Homo sapiens: one gene and its partners. The protein of the gene in region 1 purifies or fractionates together with the protein of each later gene. This does not show direct contact. Each region holds a gene or a part of one and is shown on either strand. Other genes may lie near its edges.

Region 1 (4,172 bases):
CCCCACCTGGGGGTCTCCAGGAAGTCGAGGCTGGCCTCTGAGGTTCCACAGAAAAGCAAGATGGGGGAGTGAAGGGGCCGGCTGGAACTTGATGCTCCAACCTCCAGAGTTTCGAGGCACAGCAAGACAGGTTCAGTAATGTCCTTCCCTCCAGAGAGCGGGCCTTAATTTATGGACTGGTACTCTGAGTACTTCTTGTGGTGCAGCAGCAGAACCAAGCCGCCCCCTAGCAGCATGAGCCCTGGGGCACCCAGGGCCACTGCCATGATGCCCAGGACTAGTGGGGACAAGCCGTCCACTGGAGGGAAGCCCACACCCAGGAGCATCGACCTAGAGCAAGCAGAGAGAGAGAGGTAAGCGGGCTTAGGAGGAAAGGCTGGGAGGCTCAGCCTTTGTCCACTTCAACTCCCCAAGTCCCCGGCCCAAACCCTGGCTCTCACCAGCTGAGGTAGTGTTGGTCCCAATAGCCAGGGCCTGTGGAAGCCCCGAACGTCAGATTGAAGGCACAGAAGTTATTCTGGGACCCAAAGAAGGCTCGGACAATGGGTGACTGGGGAAGAGAGTATGCTAAGGCAGGATGAAGAGGGGAAGCTTGGCAGGGCAGGGCTGATTCTCGGCCCCCCGGCTTCTGGGAGTAAGCCACTGGTCGCCACTGTGCAAAGCCTGATGGGAGGGAGCCCCACAGTAGCTGGTCCAACTGGGAAGAAAGGCAAACAAGGGAGGGTAAAGAGGACCAACCTGTGCCCGACCCTCTTTTCCTTGCCACTCCCAGCCTTATTCTGTGACTAGCAGCAGGAGTCCTGAGTCCTAGGCAGGGCCTCAATCCCTCCTCTGTAAAAATGGGGAGTTCGACTGGGTGAGGACTGAGTTGTTTTCCAAACCTCCAAGTCTGGACTCAGCCCTCCTCTTGGCCCCTAGCCCCCTTGCAGATCTCCATCTGCCAGAGTGTAAGTCATATTGCACTTTCTGTCTGTCTCCACTGAGGGCAGAGACTGGGTCAGATTCATTAGCACAGTGCCTAGCTCTTAAACGACCCAAAGAAAGTGTTGCTAAATGGCAAATGGTTGAATGAGTTTTAGGTCCCAATGGTGTCCCACCTACATTCCTCACCCATCTGCCTCTCTCCAGGAAGCCTGACCTGGAAGACGGCCGGTGCATATTCATCGTCGATGGAGTGCTGCTCCTGCATTGAGGGGCAGTCAGGGCCCTGGCCCAATGTGGCTACCTCCAGCCCAAACAGGGAACGGTTTCCCCGGGGAGAGGCTCCAATCAGGGCCACCTCTAGCTGACAGGTGTCTGCTGTGTGCAGGAGGCGAGGGGGTTGGGCTGGTCGGCTGGACCTGGAAAAGGCCTGGACCTAGGAAGGAAGAAGCATGGGAGGTGTGGGAAATAGCTGGATGCCTGTGCTTAAGGGCCACCTCCATCATTAAATCCCACCCTCACAAATCAGCCTTTTTGAGCTCTTTCCGATTTCTCACGCCTTACCCTGAAGGCCAGGCTGCCATTGGCAAAAGTCCTGGTAGGGTCGTTCATGGGGTGGCCTTGAAATGTGGCACTCAGGGTGGCAGGATCCAATGAATCAGTGATGTTGTTCCAAGAGAAATCGGCCAAGGAGTATGGAGGATATGGTCTTCCCAAAGGCTTTGCTGCCGTATCGGACACGTTGGTGCTGTCAAACTCAAGCAGCTGGAGGGTGGGGGTAGGGTGGAACTGGGCTTGCCTCAGTTTTTCTCCCGAGACCACACCTCCCACTCACCCCCTACCAAGGCTTTCATATCTGAGTCTATTTCACCCACCCCCAGTCTTTAGTTCCACCCTCTAATTGGGATGAACTCTCTCCTCTGCACTCTTCTCCTTGGTTCTCTCCCAACCTCCTCACCCTGGTAAAAACAAGGGCAGAAGAAAACTGAATGCTGTCCTTAGGGAGCACCATCAGGCCCCCATCGGGCTCAGGGGATAGCAGGAGGCTCCAGTTGACGCTCAGGGTGCTGTGGGGGGTGTTGGTGGCCACCATTACCACTGCCAGAGGCCCCAGGCTGCTCCACACATAGTGCAGTGTGGAATTGGTGCCCACTGCCCGTATATGAAGCAGGTTCTGCAGGGGGCCCAGCCAGTTAGGGATGACCTCCAGAGACACCTGGAACATGGAGTAGTGGAGGGTTGAGGGAACAGGACCAAGGAGAGACACAGGCAAAAGAGAAGCTTGAGGGGAGGGGGGCTTGGAAAGTGCTGGACAAAGGATGGGATTTTGGGGACTAGACAAGAGGAATGTGTGCGGGAGCTGAGGGAACCCTGGGGTAAGGGGCAGTGGGGACAGGATGAAAAGGGGTAGGGTAGAGGGTACAGCCAGGACTCCCCTGACCCTGGTGGGCGGGTCAGGGCACAGGGCTGCGAAGAAGAAAACATTCAACACTTGCCTGGACCTGGGTCACCCAGGGCTGAGTCGGGGTCCAGACATCACCCTCACATTTGCCCTACTCCACAATCCCGTCCCATGACCCATGACCATCTCCCACACCCTCCAGGTTGAAGAACCCTCCTCTTGGCAGCCACCCTCCACCCCTAGCCCCTGGATGCCCGGTTCCAGCCACCCTGCAAGGGTAGCGTTTCCTGAAACTTCTATCGCTGTAGCCCCAGGGCCCTCACCTGGCGGGTCTTCTCCCCCAGCAGGCCAAATGGGGCTGCAAACAGAAGTAGAGTCCAAAGGAGCAGGGGGCTGGGGGCACAGTGCCCCCAACCCCAGGTGCACTCCACAGAGCCGCGCATACGGCCGCAATTCAGCCGACGGAAGAGGTGCCAGAGGGTCACATGACTCGCGTTCAGCTGATCCCTTTCAAGGGCGGAGCCGCCAAACTATTTGCTTTTTAAAAAAATTTCCTTTCGTCAGCACCATTTAATGTATTAAAGAACAGCTTTGTATTCTATCTTAAAACAGGAAACGTCAGTCTCTTACAAGTAATACAATTTAATATGGTCACAAGATTTTAAGTGAAAAAAAAAACATTCATGCTACAAGTTTTCAGTTTTCCTTGGACAATGCCAAAAACACAGTATTCAAACGGCATGTTTTAAGAGGAACGTGAAATCTCATTTTGACACAAAGACAGGTTAAAGAAAATAAACCCAACAGGGAACTACTCCAGTACATTGCCTTAAGTTCCCAACCCTGTCCCATTGTGGAACTCATACACCTTCTTTCTACTCCAGCACATGAAACTCTGTGGTTCTTCTTCCCTGTGGAACAATGTGGTTCTTCTTCCCTGCCTAACATTTCAACAAAAATTGTAAATATTTAGAGATGTGTCACTAAATGACAACAACATACTTCCAAAAAAGCCAACTTATTTGTTAAATGTTGAAAGAAAAGGCCGGGCACGGTGGCTCACACCTGTAATCCCAGCACTTTGGGAGGCTGAGGCAGGTGGATCACAAGGTCAGGAGTTCAAGACCAGCCTGGCCAAGATGGTGAAAGCCCGTCTCTACTAAAAATACAAAAAATTCACTGGGCACGGTGGCAGGGCCCTGTAATCCCGGTGGCAGGCGCCTGTAACCCCAGCTACTCGGGAGGCTGAGGCAGGAGAATCACTTGAATCCGGGTAGTAGAGGTTGCAGTGAGCCAAGATTGTGCCACTGCACTCCAGCCTGGGCGACAAGAGCGAGACTCCGTCTCAAAAAAAAAAAAAAAAAAAAAAAAAAAAAAATATATATATATATATATATATATATATAGAGAGAGAGAGAGAGAGAGAGAGAGAGAGAGAGAAAGAAGGGGCTAGGCCGGGCACAGTGGCTTACGCCTGTAATCCCAACACTCTGAGAGGCCTTGGTGAGTGGATCACTTAAGGTCAGGAGTTAGAGACCAGCCTGACCAACATGGTGAAACCCCGTCTCTACTAAAAATACAAAAATTAGCCAGGTATGGTGGCAGGCGCCTGTAATCCTAGCTATTTGGGAGGCTGAGGCAGGAGAATCGCTTGAACCTAAGAGGCAGAGGTTGCAGTGAGCCGAGATTGCGACATTGCACTCCAGCCTGAGCAACAAGGGGCAAAACTCTATCTCAAAAAAAAAGAAAGAAAGAACGGGCTAAAATTTGGTGAAATTTAAAAGGGTTGTAGAAAACTTTGGAGTGTTTGTTTTCTTCACTTCACTCTGATTTTATTTTATTTATTTAT
Region 2 (3,500 bases), on another chromosome or scaffold:
AGAGTCCTGGACCAAAGGCAAGCTTCAGCAACTTTCTTCACCCTTAAGCCTCACTGTGTTTAAGGACGGAGCAGGACAGGACGGAGCAGGACAGGCAGGATTCAGTCAGACGTCCACCAGATGCAGGGGCTCGTGTCTGCACTCCCAACACTTTGGGAGGCCAAGGCAGGTGGATCGCTTGAGTCCAGGAGTTCGAGACCAGCCTGGGCAACATATCGAGACTGTCTCTATTAAATTAAATAAAATTTTAAATCACATGTCCATGTGGGCAGGTGGGTGTATCACCACTTTGATATGGAAATCACTTCACACCAGTTGCTAAAGAGCCCCTGACTAAGCCCTCCAGGTGACCCCTTCTCTAGGCCCTCTTATGGCCTCCAAAGTCTCTGGCCTGCCCCATCCCTGTCTGTGCCCCTGGACACGCACAGGCCCTCATGGCACTAATATGTTTGGCTCTCACTTTTGTGACTGTGATTTATTGTCTGTTCTGTGCGTCTGGATGCCTGACATCCAGTTACGCCTGCTGGCATCTCAGCCAACCTAACCCATGGGAGGACAGAGATGCTGAGAGCTGGTGAGTCCAGGTGCTGAGACCTGGTCAGTCAGACGCTGAGACCTGGTCAGTCCAGGGCTGGGATAGGGAGGCTGGGGCAGGCACTCACAAGAGGCCTCGTTGTAGTAGACGCTGATCCGCTCCAGCTGCAAGTCCGAGTCGCCCACGTAGTTGCCGCTGGGGTCGATGCCATGCTCATCACTGATGACTTCCCAGAACTGCAAACAAAGTGGGAGAGGGGGGGTCGGCACCGGCCCATAGCCCCAGCCAGGCCCTTTCCCTTGTGAAGCCTTTTAGCCCTCACTACAAAATTAGGGCTTTTGACCCACGGCCTCCACGAGCCCCATTCAGAAGAGAGCCCCACACTCTGTTACCTGTCAGAAAATTGCCATAATAAATATGCACCTCCACACCTACACGTCCAGGCCGACCACAGCCCCAGGGTGGGCCAAGGTTCAACAGACCCACACCCAGGTCCCCAGGCCCAGCTGTGCAGCTGCTGGCAAGGGCCTGGAGCAGCGGATTCCTCCATGAAGGGCATTGGTAATAAACACCTTGAGGGTTAGTTTTTACTATCCCCTCTTTTCAGGAAAGGGAACTGAGACACAGAGCGGGTAGAGACACCCACAGTAGCTGGCAGAGCAGGGTTCAGAGGCCCAGAGCTCAGGATCGCTTTTGGCTGCTACACCTGCCCCTCCATGGGAGAGCAAACCATGTCCAGTGATGGTGCCAGGACATTACTGGCCTCAGCTGACGGGACTCACAGGGACTCTGAGAGCCAGTCTCATCGGGGACCCCCAGCTGGGTCTGCAGAAGGGTCCTTGGGGTCCCAAATGGGAAGCGACTTGCCTGAGGTCACCCAGCCTGTCCGTGTGAGGCTGGCATCGTCTCAGCTCCCAGGGGTCGTCCTCTCTCTACCTGCCACCTCCACCTCTCTCCCCCTAGAGCAGGTGCCTGCAGTGCTTCTCGGACTCTGCTCCCATGACAGCTGCCGAGCGGAGCCTAGACTCAGGGGCTGGGCCTGCTGGGTTCACAGACGCTTCCCTCACCCTTCCCAGCTGTGTGACCTTGCACAGGTCACTAGGATTCCGTGTCTCAGTGTCCTCATCTGTACAATGGGCACGATGACAGGAGGTCTTTTTGAAATGAAAGTGGGTTAATCTGTGTGAGGCATATAAATGGTATATGGCAAACGTAGAACTATCTATCTGTGTGCACACGGAGAACCACACCCCTGGGTGAGAGCAAGCCCTTCAGGGAAGTTGCCACCTCATCGTGGGACACGCTCTGATGGCCGAGGCCGCTGCGTCTGGGAGCAGTGTCTGCAGGCAGCAGGCCTCCTGGGACACACGCTGGGAGGCTTCCCAGGGCTGCCTGACCTCTCCCAATGCCCCTTGCCCTTACTCCTCAGGAGTGACTTTTAGATGAGCTGACGGGTATGAAGGCCTCAAGAAACAAGGGGCTCTACATGTGAGTCATGTGCTGCAGAAGATTCCTCAAGAAAAAAGCAGGTTAGAAAACAATTTGGTGGGGCCGGGCACAGTGGCTCATGACTGTAATCCCAGCACTTTGGGAGGCTGACGTGGGAGGACCCCAGGAGTGTAGACAAAGATGCGCTTTGGAATGGAGACACAGGAGATGTGTTTTAAGATGCCTCTAGTAGGCCAGGTACAGTGGCTCATGCCTGTAATCCCAACACTTTGGGAGGCCGAGGCGGGTGGATCACGAAGTCAGGAGATCGAGACCATCCTGGCTAACATGGTGAAACCCCGTCTCTACTAAAGATACAAAAAATTAGCCGGGAATGGTGGCGGGTGCCTGTAGTCCCAGCTACTCGGGAGGCTGAAGCAGGAGAATCACTTGAACCCAGGAGGTGGAGCTTGCAGTGAGCTGAGATCATGCCATTGCACTCCAGCCTGGGCGACAGAGTGAGACACCATCTCAAAAAAAAAAAAAAGATGCCTCTCGTAAAGGGGTGACTTTAGTGGAAACTGCTGTGCAGGAGGCAGGACTGGGTGGTAGCAAGCATGAGAAGCATGAGTCTAGGAATTCATATCAAGACCCCATCTCAAAATAAATAAATAAATAGAGGCCAGGTGCGGTGGCTCACGCCTGTAATACCAACAATTTGGGAGGCTGAGGTGGGCAGATCACCGGAAGTCAGGAGTTCGAGACCAGCCTGTCTCTACTAAAAATACAAAAATTAGCCAGGGGTGGTGGCTCACACGTTCCAGCTACTCCGGAAGCTGAGGCAGAAGAATTGCTTGAACCCAGGAGACGGAGGTTGCAGTAAGCCAAGATTGCACCACTGTACTCCAGCGTGGGCGACAGAGTGAGACTCTGTCTCATAGAATAATAATAAATAAATAGAAACAAAACCACTCATAGCTGGGCACGGTGGCTCACCCCCATAATCCCTGCACTTTGGGAGGCAGAGGCGGGTGGGTCACGAGGTCAGGAGTTCGAGACCAGCCTGGCCAACATAGTGAAACTCCATCTCTCCCAAAAATACAAAAATTAGCCAGGCATGGTGGCGCGCACCTGTACTCCCAGCTACTCGAGAGGCTGAGGCAGGAGAATTGCTTGAACCCAGGAGGCAGAGGTTGTGGTGAGTCGAGATCGCGCCACTGCACTCCAGCCTGGGCAATAGTGCGAGACTGTCAGAAAGAAAGGAAGGAAGGAAGGAAGGAAGGAATGAAGGAAGAAAGAAAGGAAAGAGAGAGAGAGAGGAAGGAAGGAAGGAAGGAAGGAAGGAAGGAAGGAAGGAAGGAAGGGGAGAAAACTGCTTGTGCCAGGCACGGTGGCTCACGCCTGTAATCCCAGTACTTTGGGAGGCTGAGGCAGTGGATCATCTGAGGTCAGGAGTTCAAGACCAGCCTGGCCAACATGGCAAAACCCTGTCTCTACTAAAAATACAAAAATTAGCCAGGCGTGGTGGCGAGCACCT
Region 3 (3,500 bases), on another chromosome or scaffold:
AGGGTTCTAGGGGCTGAAATTCAAGCAGGCAGTCAGGCCTGCTTTGATGCCTAGATTAGGAATAATTGGTGAAGAGTGCTGAATTACAGTGTAAGTTTAGACCTATAACTTAATTTCCACCTGTACAGTGGTATTAAACATGAGTTTTTATCTTAAAAAGACCACGCAGGTCATAATATGTGGATACTGGGGGGCTGAGTCACGAGAAGGGATTAAGATGGTAACATCAACACCCACATTAGTCTGGGCACATTATTCAAAGCAGGGAAGTGTCTTTCCTTTTGGTAGGGGTGACCATGTGGATGAAGTACTACCATTCAGAGTACAGGACAGAGAGGTTGCTGAGTATAGATGCCAAATGTTGGACCCTATATCTGAGGACATCTGAGTCCCGAATGATGTTCAAAAAGAGGCTTCGACAAATTCTAGTTAGTAGTAACTGGTCAAAAAAGGACTCTGCCACGTACCTGCCCAGATCTCTGAGGTTACATGAGGGGCCAGTGGAGCAGCCATTACCATCAGGGCACACAAAGCATCCTCAAACTCGGGGCTGTGGAGAATGACGCTCTGAGAGGCTTGCTAAGGAAGAGGAAAAAAAAGTAAGAAGACTGAGGTGTAAAAATAAGCACGGGTAAGAAAGACCATTAATGTATCTGAAGTCCAGAGACACAAGCTGGTAGGAAGAAACCCCCTTTGCCATCCATTTCTGCTTGGGACAATGAACTTCCCCTACTTAATGATAGCACTGAGATAAACTACAGCAAGCCAGGTGTGGTAGCTGACACTTATACTCCCACTACTTTGGGAGGCCAAGAATTTGAGACCAGCCTGGGCACTATAGTGAGACCTCATCTCTATGAAAAATTAAAAAATAAAAAAAAATTAGCCAGGCACAGTTGCACACACCTATAGTCCCAGTTACTTAGGAGGCTGAAGTGGGAGGATCACTTAAGACCAGGAGGTCAAGGCTGCAGTGAGCTATGACTGCACCACTGCACTGAAGCTTGGGCAACAGTGAGACCCTATCTTTAAAAAAAAAAAAAAGCTCCAGCAGCAGCAACAACAAATACATGATGTTAACTTATTTAGTCCTCACCACTCTTTGAGGGTGGTATTCTTACCCCATTGGACAGATGAAGCAGCTAAGGATCAGCAAGGGAGGGCAATCTGCCCCCAGGCACACTGTAGCCAAACTCTTACCCACTCTGCTAGGTTTCCTCTGTGCTGCAGGTCCACAGAGAAATGCACTGAGACCTGCTCAAAGGTGTTAAACTGTGAAACACCTAGGGCAGGGGGGCCTCTATACCCTACTTAGGGACCCCTATTCTCTGAAATACCTTTGGTCAATTCCGGCAAACATAGTTGTGTTTAGCTCTGTGTGTTATTATTAAGGACTTCCCAAATTCCGGAATGGAAAGACAGAAATTCATTACAGTTTCATTTCAGTGTCTTGCTTTATTTTTTCTGATTAAAAAACTAACACACACTCAGCACAGAATATACAGGAAATGAAAAACTACTCATAATTATACAACCTAGAAAAAAAGGTATATTTTATCCTTGTCTCCAAAAATGCAAAAATGTGTATATAAATGCTTATTACACATGTAACATTTTCAGGATTGGTATTCTTGCCATATGAACACTTCCTTTTTTTTAATTTTAAAAATTAATTTTTTTTTTAAATAGAGATGGGGTATCTCACTATATTGCTCAGGCTGGTCTCGAAATCCTGGGCTCAAGCCATCTGCCTGCCCTGGCCTCCCAAAATGCTAGGATTACATGTGTGAACCACTGCACCCAGCTCATATGAACACTTTTGTATCTTTTTTTTTTGAGACAGAGTCTCTCTCTGTTGCCCAGGCTGGAGTGCAGTGGTGTGATCTCAGCTCACTGCAACCTCTGCCTACAGGTTTAAGCAATCCTCCTGCCTCAGCCTCCTGAGTGCCTGGGACTACAGGTGCACAGGTGTGCACCACCACACCCTGGCTGATTTTTTGTATTTTTAGTAGAGACAGGGTTTCACCATGTTGAGCAGGTTGGTGTTGAACTCCTGACCTCAAGCGATCTATCTGCCTTGACCTCCCGCAGTGCTGGGATTACAGGCGTGAGCCACTGTGCCTGGCCTTGTGTCATGTGTTTTTACTTAACATTATATCATAAACAGTTTCTGATATTAAGTATTCTTCAAGACATGAGGTTAATGGTGGTGGCACATTCCTTTCTTATTGATATGACATAAGTCATTTCACAATTCCCCCATCAGAGGACACTGGGGTTCCGAGTCTCTGTGATTATAAATTATCTGCAGTGAACACTCCTGGATCAGAGGATATAACACAATCAACCTGATAGCCGAAGTGCTTCCTGGCAAGGTTACACCAACCACACCTATCACTGGCGTGTAAAAGTCTATTCTGCCATCTTTGCAATAGCATGGGGAATAATTATGCCTTTATTTTTATTTTTTTGAGAGAGAGTCTCGCTTTGTCACCCAGGCTAGAGTACAGTGGCACCAAACAGCTCACTGCAACCTCAAATTCCTGGGCTCAAGGGATCCTCCCGCCTCAGCCTCCTGAGTAGCTAGAACTACAGGTGCATGCCACCACACTTGGCTAATTTTTAAATTTTTTACAGATGAAGTCTTGTTATGTTGCCCAGGCTGGTCTCAAACTCCTGAGCTCAATCGATCCTGCTGCCTCGGCCTCCCAAAGTGCTGGAATTACAGGCATGAGCCACTGTGCCTGGCCCTGAATAGTTACGTTAAAGTATTCTCAGCAAATTTGACAGGTATTTAAAAAAAAACAAAAACAAAAACAAAAGCATCTTGTTTTAAATTTGCCTTTCATGATAATTAGAGAGGCAGACTTTTTTTTCTCCACAAATGTATTGGCTATTTCTATAACATTTTCTATGAGTTATTATCTTTTCATATGCTTTGACCATTTTTGGTTAGGTATTTTCATATTAATATGTAAGAGTGCTTTACAAGGATATTAACCTTCTGTCTGACATGTTATAAATTTTTTTAACATACTGAAAATGTCAAGTTTTATGTAGTCAAATTTGAAATTTCTTCCATTGTTCTTTTTTATCTTTATTTTACTTTTTAAAAATTACCCTTTTAATTTTATTTTTAGAGACAGAGTCTCCTGCTCTGTTGCCCAGGATGGGTTCAAGCGATCCTCTCGCCTCAGCTTCCCGAGTAGCTACAGCTACAGCTGTATGCCACCATGCCAGGCTAATTATTTTATTTTTTTACTTTGTTTTTGAGGCGGAGTCTTGCTTTGTCGCCCAGGCTGAAGTGCAGTGGCGTGATCTTGGCTCACTGCATGCTCCGCCACCTGGGTTCACACCATTCTCCTGCCTCAGCCTCCTGAGTAGCTGGGACTACTGGTGCCTGCCACCACGCCTGGCTAATTTTTTGTATTTTTTAGTAGAGATGGGGTTTCACTGTGTTAGCCAGGATGGTCTTGATCTCCTGACCTCGTGATCCGCCT
Region 4 (4,235 bases), on another chromosome or scaffold:
TGTCTGCCAGCTGAATACAGTCGTGCTAAGAACACTGCCTGGCCGGGCGCGGGGGCTCACGCCTGTAATCCCAGGACTTTGGGAGGCCGAGGTGGGCAGATCACTTGAGGTCAGGAGTTCAAAACCAGCCTGATCAACATGGTGAAACCCTGTCTCAACCAAAAATACAAAAATTAGCTGCATGTGGTGGAGTGCGCCTGTAATCCCAGTTACTCAGGAGGCTGAGGCAGGAGAATCGCTTGAACTTGGGAGATGGAGGTTGAAGTGAGCTGAGACTGTGCCACTGCACTCCAGCCTGGGCGACAGAGCCAGACTCCATCTCAAAAAAAAAAAAAAAAAAAAAAGAACACTGCCTGGAAAGCTTACTCTCCTCCCTTCCAAAATGTCAGGATCAGCTAAAAAAAAACTGTCCCTTATACAAAGCCCTTCAGGGCCTCTCCAGCCCCCATGTGCTCCCTGATCTCCATCCCAGAGCCCAGGCTGTCCTCCCTCCCACATGGCAGCGTGCCCAAGGCCTTGCATTCCAGGATGACTCCCCACATGTGGGAGGCCCTCACCAAAGCCCTTGGTCTGCTTCAAGGCAGCTCAAATGCACTGTCTCTCTTTTTTTTTTTTTTTTTTTTTTTGAGACAGGGTCTCACTCTGTCGCCCAGGCTGGAGTACAGTGATTTGATCTTGGCTCAGTGCTACCTCCACCTCCTGGGTTCAAGCGATCCTCCCGACTCAGCCTCCCAAGTACCTGGGACTACAGACCTGTGCCACCACACGTGGCTGATTTTTCTATTTTTAGTAGAGATGGGGTTTCACCACGTTGGCCAGGCTGGTCTCAAACTCCTGACTTCAAGTGATCCACCTGCCTTGGCCTCCCAAAGTGCTGGGATTACAGACATGAGCCACCTGGGCTTCCGGCCCAGGAAACAGTTTCTGATTGACCCCACCTGCCTCGGCTCACGCTGCCCACATTATTGTAATTAGCTCTTTCACCCGTGTTGCCTGGGAAGCATGCACGGGTCACTTTTCAGCAGAGTGATCAACTCATCCCAGTTTCCCAAGAACTTCCAGCTTAGCGCTGAAGCCCCTTGTCCTGGGCAGTCCAGGCCAGTTGGTCACCCTACATTTCAAGCATCTGTGTGTGTGTGTATAATTAAGATATTCATCCTTTCTCTTGTCTCTCCACGGACACTCCAAGCCTCTCCAAAGCTAGGCAACTGTCTCACGTCTCAGTTAACCTGGGTATCCCCTCTCTACTCTGTCCCAAAGTCTGATGTGGAGTCTCAAGTAGAACCTGTAGCCTTGGCTTGGGGCCCTTCCTGCCGAGGCAGACACTGAAAGCCTTGAGATCCTGGCCTTCACAGGGGAAGGGGGAGGGGCAGAGGGCAGGCTGAAAGAACAGAATGGCACGGAGGACTGGAGCTATGGGTGAGGAGGGCATGGCAAGGCAGGTAAAGTTACAGAAAGCGGAGGAGGTGGGTAGCCTCGAGATGTAGGATGTTTGGGATAGAGTGAAGATAGACGAGAGAGGAGGGAAGATGAAGGAGGACAAAGTCATTTTGCAGGTCTACATAAGCCCCCTGGAGTGCTTGGCCAGGGAGGCAAAGCTGACCACCTGCCACTGACCACTCACCACCAATGTGCGTTTTACACCCCTGTCACACTGAGGACGGGAGGGGAGGGGAGCCTCAGGTGTAGGTGAGGAAGCAAGTGGGAAGTGTCCAGGCCAGATGGCTGGGAGCCCCTTCCCCATAAGGCAACCAGGAGTGCTCTTAAAACCCAAAGCGGGTGAGGCTTGCCCTTAGGACTGGAGCAGCAGGTGAATGATGGACTATGAGTAAGTGGCTTACCTTTAGCAGGTGTTGGGCCGTGTAGAAGCCAGCTGGGCCACTGCCCACCACACAGATCTGGGGGGTCTTCTCCTGTGTGGAGAAATGGTGGCAGAAGCCTGGGGCCAGGCAGAGGAGAGGGAAAAGGTCAAAATTAACTTCTCTCCCCAGTCCCAAACCAACCTGAATATCCAACAGAAGCTGGAACTTCCCAAGCTTCACCCTCACCTGCATCCTCCTTCTCTTGTTCCTCAAGGCTTTGGCATTTGCAGGGTCTCTTACTTCATCTGAACCCCCAAAGGCTGTGGGTTCATCCAGAGCCCACATCTCACCCATGAACCTACTACACCACTGCCAATGGCCTGCCCAACAACACTTCATTCCCTATCCAATCGGCTAGAATCCCACATCCTTCCAACGGCCTCCATATCATCCCAATCTCGCCCCCGTGGGTCTCCCCACGGTGTCCCTCCTCTAACCCCTCTCTCTCTCCACAAAACGCTATATTGCCCATATAGACCCGTCTTATTCCTACAGATCCCTGTTTCGACTCAGACTTTCCTCTCGCCCCACAGACCTCCGTATCATCCTCCATTCACCCCGTCTCACACCTGTAGATCTCAAAGTCTCTCCTTTTCACCTTTGTTGACCTCCGTCTCTAACCCTAGAAGCCTCACATCTCACGCACAGATCTCCGCCCACCCCCGTACACCACCGGGATCTCGCCAGCAGGAAGACACCCCTTCAGTCTCACCCTTCTCCAGCCCTGCCCCAGCTCTGCTCCGACCCCTACTCAGCGCTCGCAGGCCTCCCCGCGCTCCCATCCAGCCCCAAAGGCGCCCTGCTCCTACTCGGGGTGCTCCCGGCGGGAGGCAGCCGGGTCCGAGGCCACGCCGACCAGCCCCACCAGCGCCAGCAGCGCGAAGCCATGGCTGGGAGCAGCAACCTGCAAGTGGATCTGTTCCTAGCTACTGCTCCGCAGGGCAAGCCCGCTCCTGCCCGGGCCCGCCCACAAGCGAGGCCCCGCCCCAAACCCCGCCCCCTGCGCTCCGGGAAAGCGGAGCCTTGCGGCTCCACCCCGACTCCCGAGAGAATCCCGCCCCCAAAAGAGAGACCCGCCCTTAACTACGCCCCACCGTCGAAGCCCCGCCCCTCGGAGCATCCGGGGTATACGCGATTTAATACATTTCTCCCCAGGCCTCACCTTCCCTCCAAATCCCGGAAGCCTAGGGTTGGAAGAGAGCGAATCCCCATCGCTGTTTCAGTCCCTCCCCAAGGAAACAGCCACTAAGAAAGGAGCTTATTTTACTTAGCCGCGCCCCTCTCGGGAGGCTCTCGTCGCTCACTGATGACGCAGACGCCCTTGCCATTTGATTGCGAATCCTCCCACGTGACTTCGTCCTAGCCAATCACGAGTCCGGCTCCAAGCGAGCCTTCCCGCCGTTGGGAAATAACCAGAGTGCGGAAGTCTGGGGCGAGGGAGCTCCTTCCCGGAGCCCAGCAGCCTCCTTCTTCGACCCCGGGTGTTGTGCCGATGTAACCCCTCAAATCCCCGTCTTTGCCGGGCCAGGGAGAATATTAAACCCTGGAAAGCTCGTCCCACCTCACCTCCTTTCCCATTACATAGGTGAAGAAAAGCGGGGCGGGGCAGTGGCTTACGTATGGTACTAAGGACAGAGCGTCCGACCCCCGTGCAGCCGAGCCGGGACCAGAGTTGAGGTACTCCCCTCGGGTTCAGAATTTAAGGGGGCTCCAAAACACTCAGTAATCAAGATAAATATAATACTGCAACGTTTTAAAAGGTCAAAAGTAATGCAAAAAGTCTATGATCAAAATGTTTTTAAAAATAAGGACAGGATCCGTAGTCACAGCTGACCCAATAAGCCTAACCCCTCTTCCTTTTCCCCATGGGCCCTCTTGTCAAATATTACTTCCTTGGAGAAGCCTTTTCTCTGACCCGTCCCCTCCCAAGTTCCAAGGAGTTAAAGGCCTCTCATTCCACAGCATCTGACCTTATCCCATCATGACTTACTACACTGGTTGTCGTTTTTAATGAGATTTTAAATTCAATAATAACATACAGAAAAGTGCACAAATCATGAGTGTACAACTTGACAATATATCACAAGGTGTAACCATATAACCACCACCCAGATCAAGAAATAAAACATGGCCAGTATCCCAGGAGTCCTCTGTGCCCTTACTGGTCACTTCCCCTCCCTCCCACTGGTAAGTAAATGCTGTCTGCTTTCTAATAGGTCACTGTGTTTTATGCCTGTCCCACTAGACCAGGAGTAGGCAAACTATAGCTTGCAGGCCAAATACTGTCCACCAGCATGTTTTGGATGACCAACAAGAATGGCTTTTACTGTTTTTGTTTTTTTGGAGGTTTTGGGGTTTTTGTTTTTGGTTTTG
Region 5 (3,500 bases), on another chromosome or scaffold:
GATCTCCTGACCTCATGATCCACCCGCCTCAGCCTCCCGAAGTGCTGGGATTACAGGCATGAGCCACCACGCCTGGCCCTAAAATATAACTTTCATATAAACACTCTATTATAGTCTCTAAATTTATAGCCTTGATTAAATATACAGAAACTAAGTAGTAGTCATCCAGATAAAAAGGGAGTGATAGTAAGTGATGGACTCAGCCTTGGCGAAGTTGTTCCCAGGATTCCTGTAGGACTTGGGTGCAGAAGGAAGATCTTTTTAAACTATTTATTTATTTATTTATTTATTTATTTATTTATTTATTTATTTTGAGACAAGAGTCTTGTTCAGTTGCCCAGGCTGGAGTGCAGTGGCGCAATCTCGGTCACTGCAAACTCTGCCTCCCGGGTTCAAGTGATTCTCCTGCCTCAGCCTCCCGAGTAGCTGGGATTGCAGGCACCTGCCACCATGCCCGGCTAATTTTTGTGTTTTTAGTAGAAATGGGGTTTTACCATGTTGGCCAAGCTGGTCTCAAACTCCTGACTTTGTGATCTGCCCGCCTCAGCCTCCCAAAGTGCTGGGATTACAGGCATGAGCCACTGCATCTGGCTTAGGAAGATCTTGAGGCAGTGCCTGCCCAACCGTCCTTGAGTGAGGTGGTGCTACCCTTCTTTTTTTTTTTTTTTTTTTTTTCGAGATGGAGTCTTGTTCTGCCACTCAGACTGGAGTGCAGTGGTCCGATCTTGGCTCACTGCAACCTCCACCTCCTGGGTTCAAGTGATTCTCCTGCCTCAGCCTCCCAAGTAGCTGGGATTACAGGCACCTGCCACAATGCCCAGCTCATTTTTATAATTTTAGTACAGATGGGTTTTGCCATGTTGGCCAGCTGGTTTTAATCTCCTGAGCTCAGGTGATCTGCCTGCCTCAGCCTCCCAAAGCGCTGGAATTACAGATATGAGCCACCACGCCTGGCCTGCCCTTTCTTCTTCTTCTTTTTTTTTATGGAGTCTCATTCTGTCACCCAGGTTGGAGTGCAGTGGCACGATCTCAGCCCACTGCAACCTCCGCCTCCCGGGTTCAAGCAATTCTCCCTGCCTCAGCCTCCCGAGTAGCTGGGACTACAAGCGTCTGCCACCATGCCCGACTAATTTTTGTATTTTTAGTAGAGATGGGGTTTCACCATATTGGCCAGGCCGGTCTTGAACTCCTGACTTCGTGATCTGCCCTCCTTGGCCTCCCAAAGTGCTGGAATTACAGGCGTGAGCCATGGCACCTGGCCTTGTTCTTTCTTCTTTAAGCTCCTCCTCCTTACATCTCTAGTGCCCAGGGTAGAGTCTGAGCAGTGTCTGATGGAGGTTCTAGGCTTCAGGTCCACTTAGAGTCCTCTGCCCTTACAGAAGGAAGGTAGGCTTACCTGCCTCTTGGTCATTAGACGTTATTGAACACCTGCCTAGGGGTGGGCAATGTGCTGGGTCCTGGAGTTGTGGTGAGAATGTCTTGTATAAACCCAAGTCTTTGAAGAGTTGAATAGGCTTCCTTAGTCCATATTTGTGCATGTCCTGGTTTTTCCTGTGCCAGATTTGAGCTTTCTGCTTTCTGGAGCTGCCAGGCAGGGGTCTGTAGGTTGTGAAACATGGAACTGGGTTGGCCATTCTAGTGGAAGGAAGACTAGACAAGTTGTTCAGGAGGAATGGGCTTGACCTCTCAGGACCTGGTCATCCTTTTAGCTCATGTAGGGAGCTGTGGGAATGGCTTTGAATGGACTTTGTCATATGCTACTTTTGCAGATCCTCCTCAGATCTCTGTCCTTTTCCCATTTACTGCCTCTGTACTTTGTTCTTGGAGTCCACCTGCAGCCTGCAGCAGTTTAGGCTTTTGCAGGAATTAGGAGGAATGCTGACAGGTACAGTTGTGCCACTTTGATTCTGAAAAGAAAGTTTGGATACCCAGGGTCTGCAGTGAGGCAGGTTCTTCAGCCTGGGTCTGTGGAGCCCTGCCAGTGTGCAGCCTCACCCTGATTCTCCTGCTACTCTCTATAAGGAGAAACTTTAAAATTTTTTTGTATTTGTTTTAAAAAAATGGTTTTGAGATGGGGTCTTGCTATTTTACCCAGGCTGGTCTTGAACTCCTGGGCTCAAGTGATCCTCCCGTCTCAGCCTCCTGCGTACCTGAGATTATAGGCCCTGATACAGGCACTTCATTTGTTACTGAGAAGCTTATGACAAAGTAACAAAGTGATATTTATCTCTTTCCTTCATTCTCCAGAGGCAACTACTTTCAATTTTTTCAGTTGTTTATGCTGTTTCCACCTATCTACATAATATACATTTACTATTATATTTTATTTATTTATTTTTATTATTATTATTTTTTGTTTGAGACGGAGTTTTACTCTTGTTGCCCAGGCTGGAGTGCAATGGCGCGATCTCGGCTCACTGCAACCTCCGCCTCCCGGTTCAAGCGATCCTCCTGCCTCAGCCTCCTGAGTAGCTGGGATTACAGGCATGTGCCACCACGCCTGGCTAATTTTGTATTTTTAGTAGAAACAGGGTTTCTCCATGTTGGTCAGGCTGGTCTCGAACTCCCGACCTCAGGTGATCCGCCCGCCTTGGCCTCTGAAAGTGCTGGGATTACAGGCATGAGCCACCGCACCCGGCCATTACTATTATATTTTATACATTTTTATATTTTTTAGCTACCTATTTGTGGTACATTATTTTATATTTTAGCTCTTAGTCTCCCTATCCCCTCCTTCTGCCCTGCCCATCCATATGATTTTATCACCCTTTGTGGTTTAATCCAATTCACCATTTTCATGATTACAACTTTATATATATTTTTTCTCTTAAGTAAGTATGAAGTATGATGTGCATTCCATTCCTTGTGTAACTTCTTGTTTCCCTTGGGATTGGGTTAATAATTGTGTTAAATCTTTTGTTTTGTTTGTCTTTGAATCACTGTCTCTGTCATTCTGTACCCTAAATGCTCTGTAGTGTACCTTTCTGTTTGGTTTGCTACACACTGCCTAAGGAGTTATTTTCTGTTGTTCTAGTGTGTATTGTTTTGTTCTGTTTTTGTTTTAGTTTAGTTTTGTTTTTTTGAGATGGAATTTTGCTGTGTTGCCAGGCTGGAGTACAGTGGCACAATCTCGGCTCACTGCAACCTTTGCCTCCCAGGTTCAAGCGATTCTCATGCCTCAGCTCCTGAGTAGCTGGGATTACAGGCATGCACCACCACACCCAGCTAATTTTTGTATTTTTAGTAGAGGCGGGGTTTCACCATGTTGGCCATGATGGTCTTGATCTCCTACCTTGTGATCCGCCTGCCTTGGCCTCCCAAAGTGCTGGAATTACAGGCATGAGCTACTGCACCCAGCCTTGTTCTGTTTTTCTTGGAAACATCGCTTTTGGAGTCCTCTACTGCCCTGTGGACTGACTGCTTCCCAGGTCCACTGCACCCTGTGCCATCCTAGAAACGCATTTCATCTCTCTTGGACTGGCCCCCTGGTCTCCCAGGTC
Region 6 (3,500 bases), on another chromosome or scaffold:
TGAGATGGAATCTCGCTCTGTTGCCCAGGCTGGAGTGCAGTGGTGAGATCTCAGCAAACTGCAAACTTCACCTCCTAGGTTCAAACGATTCTCCTGCCTCAGCCTCCCGAGTACCTGGGATTATAGGCGTGCACTACCATGCCCGGCTAATTTTTTGTATTATTATTATTTTTTTTTTTTTTTTTTGAGACGGAGTCTCGCTTTGTTGCCAGGCTGGAGTGCAGTGGTGCAATCTCAGCTCACTGCAACCTCCGCCTCCCAGGTTCAAGCGATTCTCCTGCCTCAGCCTCCTGAGTAGCTGGGACTACAGGTGCCTGCCACCACGCCCGGCTAATTTTTGTATTTTTACTAGAGACGGGTTTTACCATATCAGCCAGGCTGGTCTCAAACTCCTGACCTTGTGATCCACCCATCTCGACCTCCCAAAGTGCTGGGATTACAGGCGTGAGCCACTGCGCCCGGCCTCTTTTTAAAATTTAGAACAGTAGCCAGGCGTGGTGACTCACACCTGTAATCCCAGCACTTTGGGAGGCCGAGGTGGGCAGAATACCTGAGGTCAGGAGTTCCAGACCAGACTGGCCAACAGGGTGAAACCCAATTTCTACTAAAAATACAAAACATTAGCTGGGTGTGGTGGTGTGCACCTGTAATCTCAGCTACTCCGAAGGCTGAGGCAGGAGAATTGCTTGAACCTGGGAGGTGGAGGTTGCAGTAAGCCAAGATCGCGCCACTGCACTCCAGCCTGGGCGACAGAGCGAGACATCGTTTCAAAAAAAAAAAAAGAAAAGAAAAGGAAAGGCTGGGCGCGGTGGCTCATGCCTGTAATCCCAGCACTTTGGGAGGCCAAGGAGGGCGGATCATGAGGTCAGGAGATCCAGACCATCTTGGCTAACATGGTGAAACCCCGTCTCCCATCTCTACTAAAAATACAAAAAAAAAAAAGCCGGGCGTGGTGGCGGGCGCCTGTAGTCCCAGCTACTAGGGAGGCTGAGGCAGGAGAATGGCGTGAACCCGGGAGGTGGTGCTTGCAGCGAGCTGAGATCGTGCCACTGCACTCCAGCCTGGGCGACAGAGCGAGACTCCGTCTCAAAAAAAAAAAAAAAAAAAGAAAAGAAAAGGAAAAGGTCAAAGACTGACGAGATGGAGAGAAACTAGAGTCTTTGGAAGTGACGTTACATTTGAGCTAGGCAAGCAGGGGAGTAGAGGATGCTCCTGGAGCACAGATCCCGTGGCCAAAGCCTCAGCCCAAGCCTAGTGTGTGCAGTGGAACTGAGAAGGGGCCAGCGTGGCCTAGGGCGGGGAGAGGACTCAGGGAAAGCAAATGCGGAGGGAGGCAGCGGCAGCCACTTCCGGTTCTCACCATAGGTTGTCTTCTCTACCAGCCTCCCGTCCTCACGGAAGTCATCTGTAGCTTTGCCCAGGAGGCCACGCACTGTGTAATCCTTCAAGGACAGGGAGGTAAAGATCCGTCAGTGACCCCATTCTAAGCCCTAGTAGCCCCTGCCCCAGAAGCTGGGGGTGGGGGGTCCTCAGGTCTCCCTCAGGAAGCTCATGTGCCCAGCCCCTGCCCAGCTGCTCCACAGCCCCAGGAGGAAGGGCACCAGCTCTGTCATGTGGCCTTCAGCAGCTCTTGCTCTCTTTGTATTCAAGCTCTCCTGTCACCTGGGGACAGTAACAGGGCCAGTCTCACAGTACTGCTGCCTGGATTCAGCAGGACATGGTACCTGGCTCCCAGTCAGCAGGCTTCCTACAAGACTGCTGGCTGGTTTCCATGACAACCAGCACTGGCAGCCTCCAAAGGTACTGACCGCTGACAGCCACCCTGTGGCCACCCCAGGCCTCCATGTTTCTCCTCTCCAACCTAACTCGGCAATTTATCACCCCGAGCCCCTTCTAGCATGCCCTGTAGGCTTCTCTCCACGCCTCTAAATAGAATGAGATTCCATGGCCCAGATCAGGCCCTTGCTCATCCCTGCTTGTAAAAACTCCCCCTCCTCTGAATCTGTGCAGCTAACCCCATCTGCCACAGATAAGTAATGATTGGCTGGATACAGTGACTCACACGTATAATCCCAGCACTTTGGGAGACAGAGGCGGGTGGATCGTCGAGTAGCTGGGAGGACAGGCATGCGCCACCAGCCTGGCTAATTTTTTTGTATTTTTAGTAGAGACAGGTTTTCACCATGTTGTCCAGGCTGGTCTTGAACTCCTGGCCTCAAGTGACCCACCCACCTCAGCCTCCCAAAGTGGCAGGAGCCACTGAGCCCGGCCACAATTTTTAAAATTTTTATAATTTAAAAAAATTTTGTAAATAGAGATGGAGTCTTGCTATGTTGCCCAGACTGGTCTCAAATTCCTGGGCTCAAGCAATCCTCCTGCCTCAGCCTCCCAAAGTACTGGGATTACAGGTATGAGTCACCACACCTGGCCCTCATTCCCATTTTACAGATGAGGAAACTGAGGCACACAGATATTAATTAGGTAATCTACCCAAGGACACACAGCTGTCAGAGTGGTAGAAGCTGGGGTTCAAACTGAAGCCATTTGGCTCCAGAATTTGTGCCCTTAACCACTAAAAACATGGGCCCCATAACGTGGCACCTGCGTACATACTTTGTGGTATCAGACTCCATAGCCCCGACCCCACCTCTGGATGGTAAGCTCCCTGTGGGTAGGATGCTGACATCTACCTCTCAGTCTTGGGACAGAATAGGGAATGGCATCATGATCAAGCTCTGGTGTTGGAGAGACCTAGGTTCAAATCCCAGCTCTTAAAGCCCTAACAACTACATGACCTAGGTAAGTAACATCTCCTCTCTGAGCCTCAGTTCTCTCATCTGTGAAATGTGGCTAACAACAGATTCCACTTTACAGGGAGGCTGTGAGGCTTCCCTAAAGGAATCCACGTACAGTGCTCAGCACAGAGTAGTCGGCATACACTAACACTGGTAGTTATTATTGTTATTATTATTACAGCCCCTGCACAGCACACGATCATCAAAAAAATGCTTGCTTATGGCTTGGGTGTTCCCCCACGGAATCCTCTAAGCTTCAGAATCCTGCTGGTGACCCCCAGGAAAGGACCAAGGGAGAAGCAGGCTGTCCCCAGACCCTCGTACCTTGGTAAGATGAGCATTGTACATATCGGTGAGGAGCCTGCATCCATGTCCCACGCCGAGCACTGAAAAGCAGCCAGCGTCATCTCACACCTGGGACCCCCTTCCCATTCCCCTAAGTATCCCCACCCCTACCCCCACCATCAGAATACTCCCTTTTCTGATGCTGCCAAAGGCAACAAGAAGGCAAAAAGATCTTCTACAGGGGGCAGGTGCACCCCTCTGGGTATATATCACATGCAGATTGCTGGGCCTTACCCATATGCACTGAATCTGACTCATGGTTGGAGGGGGCCTAGGATCCCTGCCAAGCTCTCCACAGGATTCTGACACCTGAGAGGAAGAGATCCCTGGCCTAGTCACACAAACCTGCACTCAAATCAG
Region 7 (3,500 bases), on another chromosome or scaffold:
GGGCACCATAGTGAGATCCTGTCTCTATAAAAAATTTAAAAATTAGCCAAGTGTGGTGGCTTGCGCCTATAGTACTAGCTACTTGGGAGGCTGAGGCAGGAAGATCACTTGAGCCCAGGAGGTCAAGGTTGCAGTGAGCTACAAATGCATTGCTGCACTCCAACCTGGATGACAGAACTAGACTCTGTATCAACAACAGCAAAACTACTGAAGGAAATTTTAAGTGCTACTCCTGAGAAGAGAAAAATAGTAGGCTGGGTGTGGTGGCTCCCATCTGTAATCCTAGAACTTTGGGAGACCAAGACGAGAGGATCAACTGAGGTCAGGAGTTCGAGACCAGCCTGGCCAACAATGTGAAACTCCATCTCTACTAAAAATACAAGAATTACCTGGGCGTGGTGGCGGGCGACTGTAATCCCAGCCACTGGGGAGGTTGAGGCAGGAGAATCGCTTGAACCTGGGAGATGGAGGCTGCAGTGAGCTGAGATTGTGCCACTGCACTCCAGCCTGGGCGACAGAGCAAGACTCTGTCTCCAAAAAAAAAAAAAAAAAAAAAAATAGAGTAAGAAAGCAAAACAGCCTTATTGCCAACATGGAAAAAATTACATGAATAGAAGATCAAATCAGCCACAACATTCCCTTAAGCCACAGCCAATCTAGAGCAAGACTAACTCCTTCAATTCTATGAAGGCTGAAAGAATTGAGGAAGCTGCAGGAAAAAAGTCTGAAGCTAGCAGAGGTTGGTTCATGAGGTTTAAGGAAACAAGCTGTCTCTATAACACACAAGTACAACTTGAAGCAGCAAGTGTGGATGTAGAAACTGCAGCAACTTATCAAGAAGATCCTAAGATGAAGGTGGCTACACTAAACAGATTTGCAAAGCAGACAAAACAGCCTTCTATTGGAAGAAGATGCCATCTAAGACTTTCATAGCTACAGGTGAGGAGGCAATGCCTGGCTTCAAAGCTTCAAAGGACAGGCTGACTTCATTAGGCACTAATGCTGTTGGTGACTAAGTTGAAGCCAATGCTCATTTACCATTCTGAGAATCCTAGAACCCTTAAGAATGATGGTAAACTACTCTGCCCGTGCTCTACAAATCGAACAACAAAGCCTAGATTACAGCACTCCTGTTTACAGCATCGTTTATGGAATATTTTTTATTTGTTTATTTTTACTTTTTGAGATGGAGTCTCACTCTGTCGCCCAGGCTGGAAGTACAGTGGCACTATCTCAGCTCACTACAACCTCCGCCTCCCAGGTTCAAGCAGTTCTCCTGCCTCAACCCTCCGAGCAGCTGGGATCACAGGCGCCTGCCATCATGTCCGGCTAATTTTTGTGTTTTTAGTAGAGATGGGGTTTCACCGTGTTGGCCAGGGTGGTCTTGAACTCCTGATCTCAGGCGATCCGCCCGTGTTGGCCTCCCACAGTGCTGGTATTATAGGCGCAATCCACTGTGCCCAAACGGTTTACCAAATATTTTAAGCCCAATGTTGCGACCAAATGCTGAGAAAAAAAGATTCCTTTCAAAATACTACTGTTCATCGACAATGTATCTGGTCACCCAAGAGCTCAGATGCACAGGTACAAGAAGATGAATATTGTTTTCATGCCTGCTAACACAATGTCCATTCTGCAACCACATACATCAAGCAGGAATTTCAACGTTTAAGTCTTATTATTTAAGAAATATATTTTCTTTTTTTATTCCCCTAAGAAATACATTTTGTAAAAAAAAAAAAAAAAAAAAAAAAAAAAGAAAAAGAAAAAGAAAGAAAGAAAGAAAGAAAAAGAAATATATTTTGTAAGGCAATAGCCACAGAGTGATTTTTCTGATGGATCTGGGCAAGGTAAACTGAAAAGCTTCTGGAAAGGATCTACCATTCTAGATGTCATCGGGAACACTCATGATTCATGAGAGGAGGTCAAAATACCAACATTAACAGTTTAGAAGAAGTTGATTACAACACTCAAGTATGACTTTGAGGGGCTCAAGACTTGAGTGGAGGAAGTAACTGCAGATGCGGTAGAAATAGAAAGAGAACTAGAGGCTGGGTGCAGTGGCTCATGCCTGTAATCCCAGTACCCTGGGAGGCCGAGGCGGGCGGATCACCTGAGGTCAGGAGTTCGAGACCAGCCTGGCCAACATGGTGAAACCTCATCTTTATTAAAAATTCAAAAAAATTAACTGGGCATGGTGGTGGGTGCCTGTAATCCCAGCTACTCAGGAGGCTGAGGCAGGAGAATCGCTTGAACTAAGGAGGCAGAGGTTGCAGTGAGCCAAGATCGTGCCATTGCACTTCAGTCTGGGTGACAGGAGTGAAACTCCATCTCGAAAAAAAAGAAAGAGCAAGAGAACTAGAATTAGAAGTGGAGCCTGAAGATGTGATTGAATTGCTGCAATCTCATGATCAAACTTGAACAGATGAGAAGTTGTTTCTTATGGATGAGCAAAGGAAGTGGTTTCTTGAGATGGAATCTACTCCTGGTGAAGACACTGTGGACACTGTTGAAATGACAACAAAGGATTTAGATTACATAAACCTAGCTGATAAAGCAGCAGCACGGTTTGAGAGGATTTACTCCTACTCTGAAAGAAGTTCTACTGTGGATAAAATGCTATCAGACAGCATCACATGCTACTGAGAAATCTTTTGTGAAAGGAGGAGTCAATCAACGTGGCGAACTTCATGTTGTCTTATTTTAAGAAATTGCCACCGCTACCCCAACCTTCAGTAACCGCCACTCTGATCAGTCCACAGCCATCAACAGAGGCAAGACCCTCCACCAGCAAAAAGATTATGACTCACTGCAGGCTCAGATGATTATTAGAATTTTTTAGTAATAAAGCATTTTAAAATTAAGGTATCTACATCTTAACAAACCACTCTAAAATGCACTGGCTTAAAACCATAATTTATTACTTTTTTTTTTTTTTGAGACAGTGTCACCCAGGCTGGAGCGCAGTGGCATGATCTCGGCTCACTGCAATCTCCACCTCCCAGGTACAAGCAATTCTCCTGTCTCAGCCTCCTGAGTAGCTGGGACTCCAGGCACACACCAGCACACCTGGCTAATTTTTGTATTTTTAGTAGAGATGGGGTTTCATCATATTGGTCAGGCCGGTCTCGAACTCCTGAGCTCAAGTGATCCACCCGCCTTGGTCTCCCAAAGTGCTGGGATTACAGGCGTGAGCCACCGCGCCCAGCCCCAGCCAGTACTCTTGACTGCTTAATCAGAGCTGGAGAGTCTCAGATGGCTTCACTCGTACCTGGAGCCTTAGTGCTGGTTGTTGTCTGCTTGCTCTTTCACCGCCCAGTCCTTGGTGTTCAGTAGTCTAGCGGGGGCTTCTACCATGACAGAGGGAGTGTTCCAAGTGGGCAAAGGCAAAAGCTGCAAGGTCTTCTGAGGCCGACTCTGGACCTTGCACAATATTACTTCCACCACATGCTACCGATCAAACTAAGCCGCAAGTCCAACCCAGCTGCAAGGAATAGGGA

What was found.
Region 2: the proteins of GLMP (region 1) and TUBB3 purify together in Homo sapiens (affinity purification with mass spectrometry; 2 studies listed by BioGRID and IntAct, with this or other methods). This does not show direct contact.
Region 3: the proteins of GLMP (region 1) and LARS2 purify together in Homo sapiens (affinity purification with mass spectrometry; 2 studies listed by BioGRID and IntAct, with this or other methods). This does not show direct contact.
Region 4: the proteins of GLMP (region 1) and FDXR purify together in Homo sapiens (affinity purification with mass spectrometry; 2 studies listed by BioGRID and IntAct, with this or other methods). This does not show direct contact.
Region 5: the proteins of GLMP (region 1) and SLC25A20 purify together in Homo sapiens (affinity purification with mass spectrometry; 2 studies listed by BioGRID and IntAct, with this or other methods). This does not show direct contact.
Region 6: the proteins of GLMP (region 1) and TRUB2 purify together in Homo sapiens (affinity purification with mass spectrometry; 2 studies listed by BioGRID and IntAct, with this or other methods). This does not show direct contact.
Region 7: the proteins of GLMP (region 1) and PARL purify together in Homo sapiens (affinity purification with mass spectrometry; 2 studies listed by BioGRID and IntAct, with this or other methods). This does not show direct contact.

Annotation. Positions count from the first base shown.
Region 1 is NC_000001.11:156,292,880-156,297,051, forward strand, and holds the start of GLMP (glycosylated lysosomal membrane protein isoform 1 precursor), read right to left. Parts: upstream 2,801-4,172; 5' UTR 2,767-2,800; coding exon 2,647-2,766; exon of another isoform or gene 2,418-2,646; intron 2,138-2,417; coding exon 1,880-2,137; exon of another isoform or gene 1,797-1,879; intron 1,687-1,796; coding exon 1,486-1,686; intron 1,358-1,485; coding exon 1,139-1,357; intron 832-1,138; exon of another isoform or gene 739-831; intron 698-738; coding exon 441-697; intron 331-440; coding exon 165-330; coding exon of another isoform or gene 133-164; 3' UTR 1-132. UniProt on the Homo sapiens protein: Required to protect lysosomal transporter MFSD1 from lysosomal proteolysis and for MFSD1 lysosomal localization.
Region 2 is NC_000016.10:89,929,842-89,933,341, reverse strand, and holds part of TUBB3 (tubulin beta-3 chain), read right to left. Parts: intron 772-3,500; coding exon 663-771; intron 1-662. UniProt on the Homo sapiens protein: Tubulin is the major constituent of microtubules, protein filaments consisting of alpha- and beta-tubulin heterodimers. Microtubules grow by the addition of GTP-tubulin dimers to the microtubule end, where a stabilizing cap forms.
Region 3 is NC_000003.12:45,521,076-45,524,575, reverse strand, and holds part of LARS2 (leucine--tRNA ligase, mitochondrial), read right to left. Parts: intron 580-3,500; coding exon 468-579; intron 1-467.
Region 4 is NC_000017.11:74,870,195-74,874,429, forward strand, and holds the start of FDXR (NADPH:adrenodoxin oxidoreductase, mitochondrial isoform 1 precursor), read right to left. Parts: upstream 2,801-4,235; 5' UTR 2,751-2,800; coding exon 2,672-2,750; exon of another isoform or gene 2,575-2,671; intron 2,123-2,574; coding exon of another isoform or gene 2,004-2,122; intron 1,940-2,003; coding exon 1,842-1,939; intron 1-1,841. UniProt on the Homo sapiens protein: Serves as the first electron transfer protein in all the mitochondrial P450 systems including cholesterol side chain cleavage in all steroidogenic tissues, steroid 11-beta hydroxylation in the adrenal cortex, 25-OH-vitamin D3-24 hydroxylation in the kidney, and sterol C-27 hydroxylation in the liver.
Region 5 is NC_000003.12:48,885,383-48,888,882, reverse strand, and holds part of SLC25A20 (mitochondrial carnitine/acylcarnitine carrier protein), read left to right. Parts: intron 1-3,500. UniProt on the Homo sapiens protein: Mediates the electroneutral exchange of acylcarnitines (O-acyl-(R)-carnitine or L-acylcarnitine) of different acyl chain lengths (ranging from O-acetyl-(R)-carnitine to long-chain O-acyl-(R)-carnitines) with free carnitine ((R)-carnitine or L-carnitine) across the mitochondrial inner membrane, via a ping-pong mechanism.
Region 6 is NC_000009.12:128,312,448-128,315,947, forward strand, and holds part of TRUB2 (pseudouridylate synthase TRUB2, mitochondrial), read right to left. Parts: exon of another isoform or gene 3,379-3,500; coding exon of another isoform or gene 3,375-3,378; exon of another isoform or gene 3,182-3,374; coding exon 3,120-3,181; exon of another isoform or gene 2,977-3,119; intron 1,801-2,976; exon of another isoform or gene 1,651-1,800; intron 1,459-1,650; exon of another isoform or gene 1,443-1,458; coding exon 1,361-1,442; exon of another isoform or gene 1,104-1,360; intron 1-1,103. UniProt on the Homo sapiens protein: Minor enzyme contributing to the isomerization of uridine to pseudouridine (pseudouridylation) of specific mitochondrial mRNAs (mt-mRNAs) such as COXI and COXIII mt-mRNAs.
Region 7 is NC_000003.12:183,874,881-183,878,380, forward strand, and holds part of PARL (presenilin-associated rhomboid-like protein, mitochondrial isoform 1 precursor), read right to left. Parts: intron 3,408-3,500; exon of another isoform or gene 3,272-3,407; intron 1-3,271. UniProt on the Homo sapiens protein: Required for the control of apoptosis during postnatal growth. Essential for proteolytic processing of an antiapoptotic form of OPA1 which prevents the release of mitochondrial cytochrome c in response to intrinsic apoptotic signals.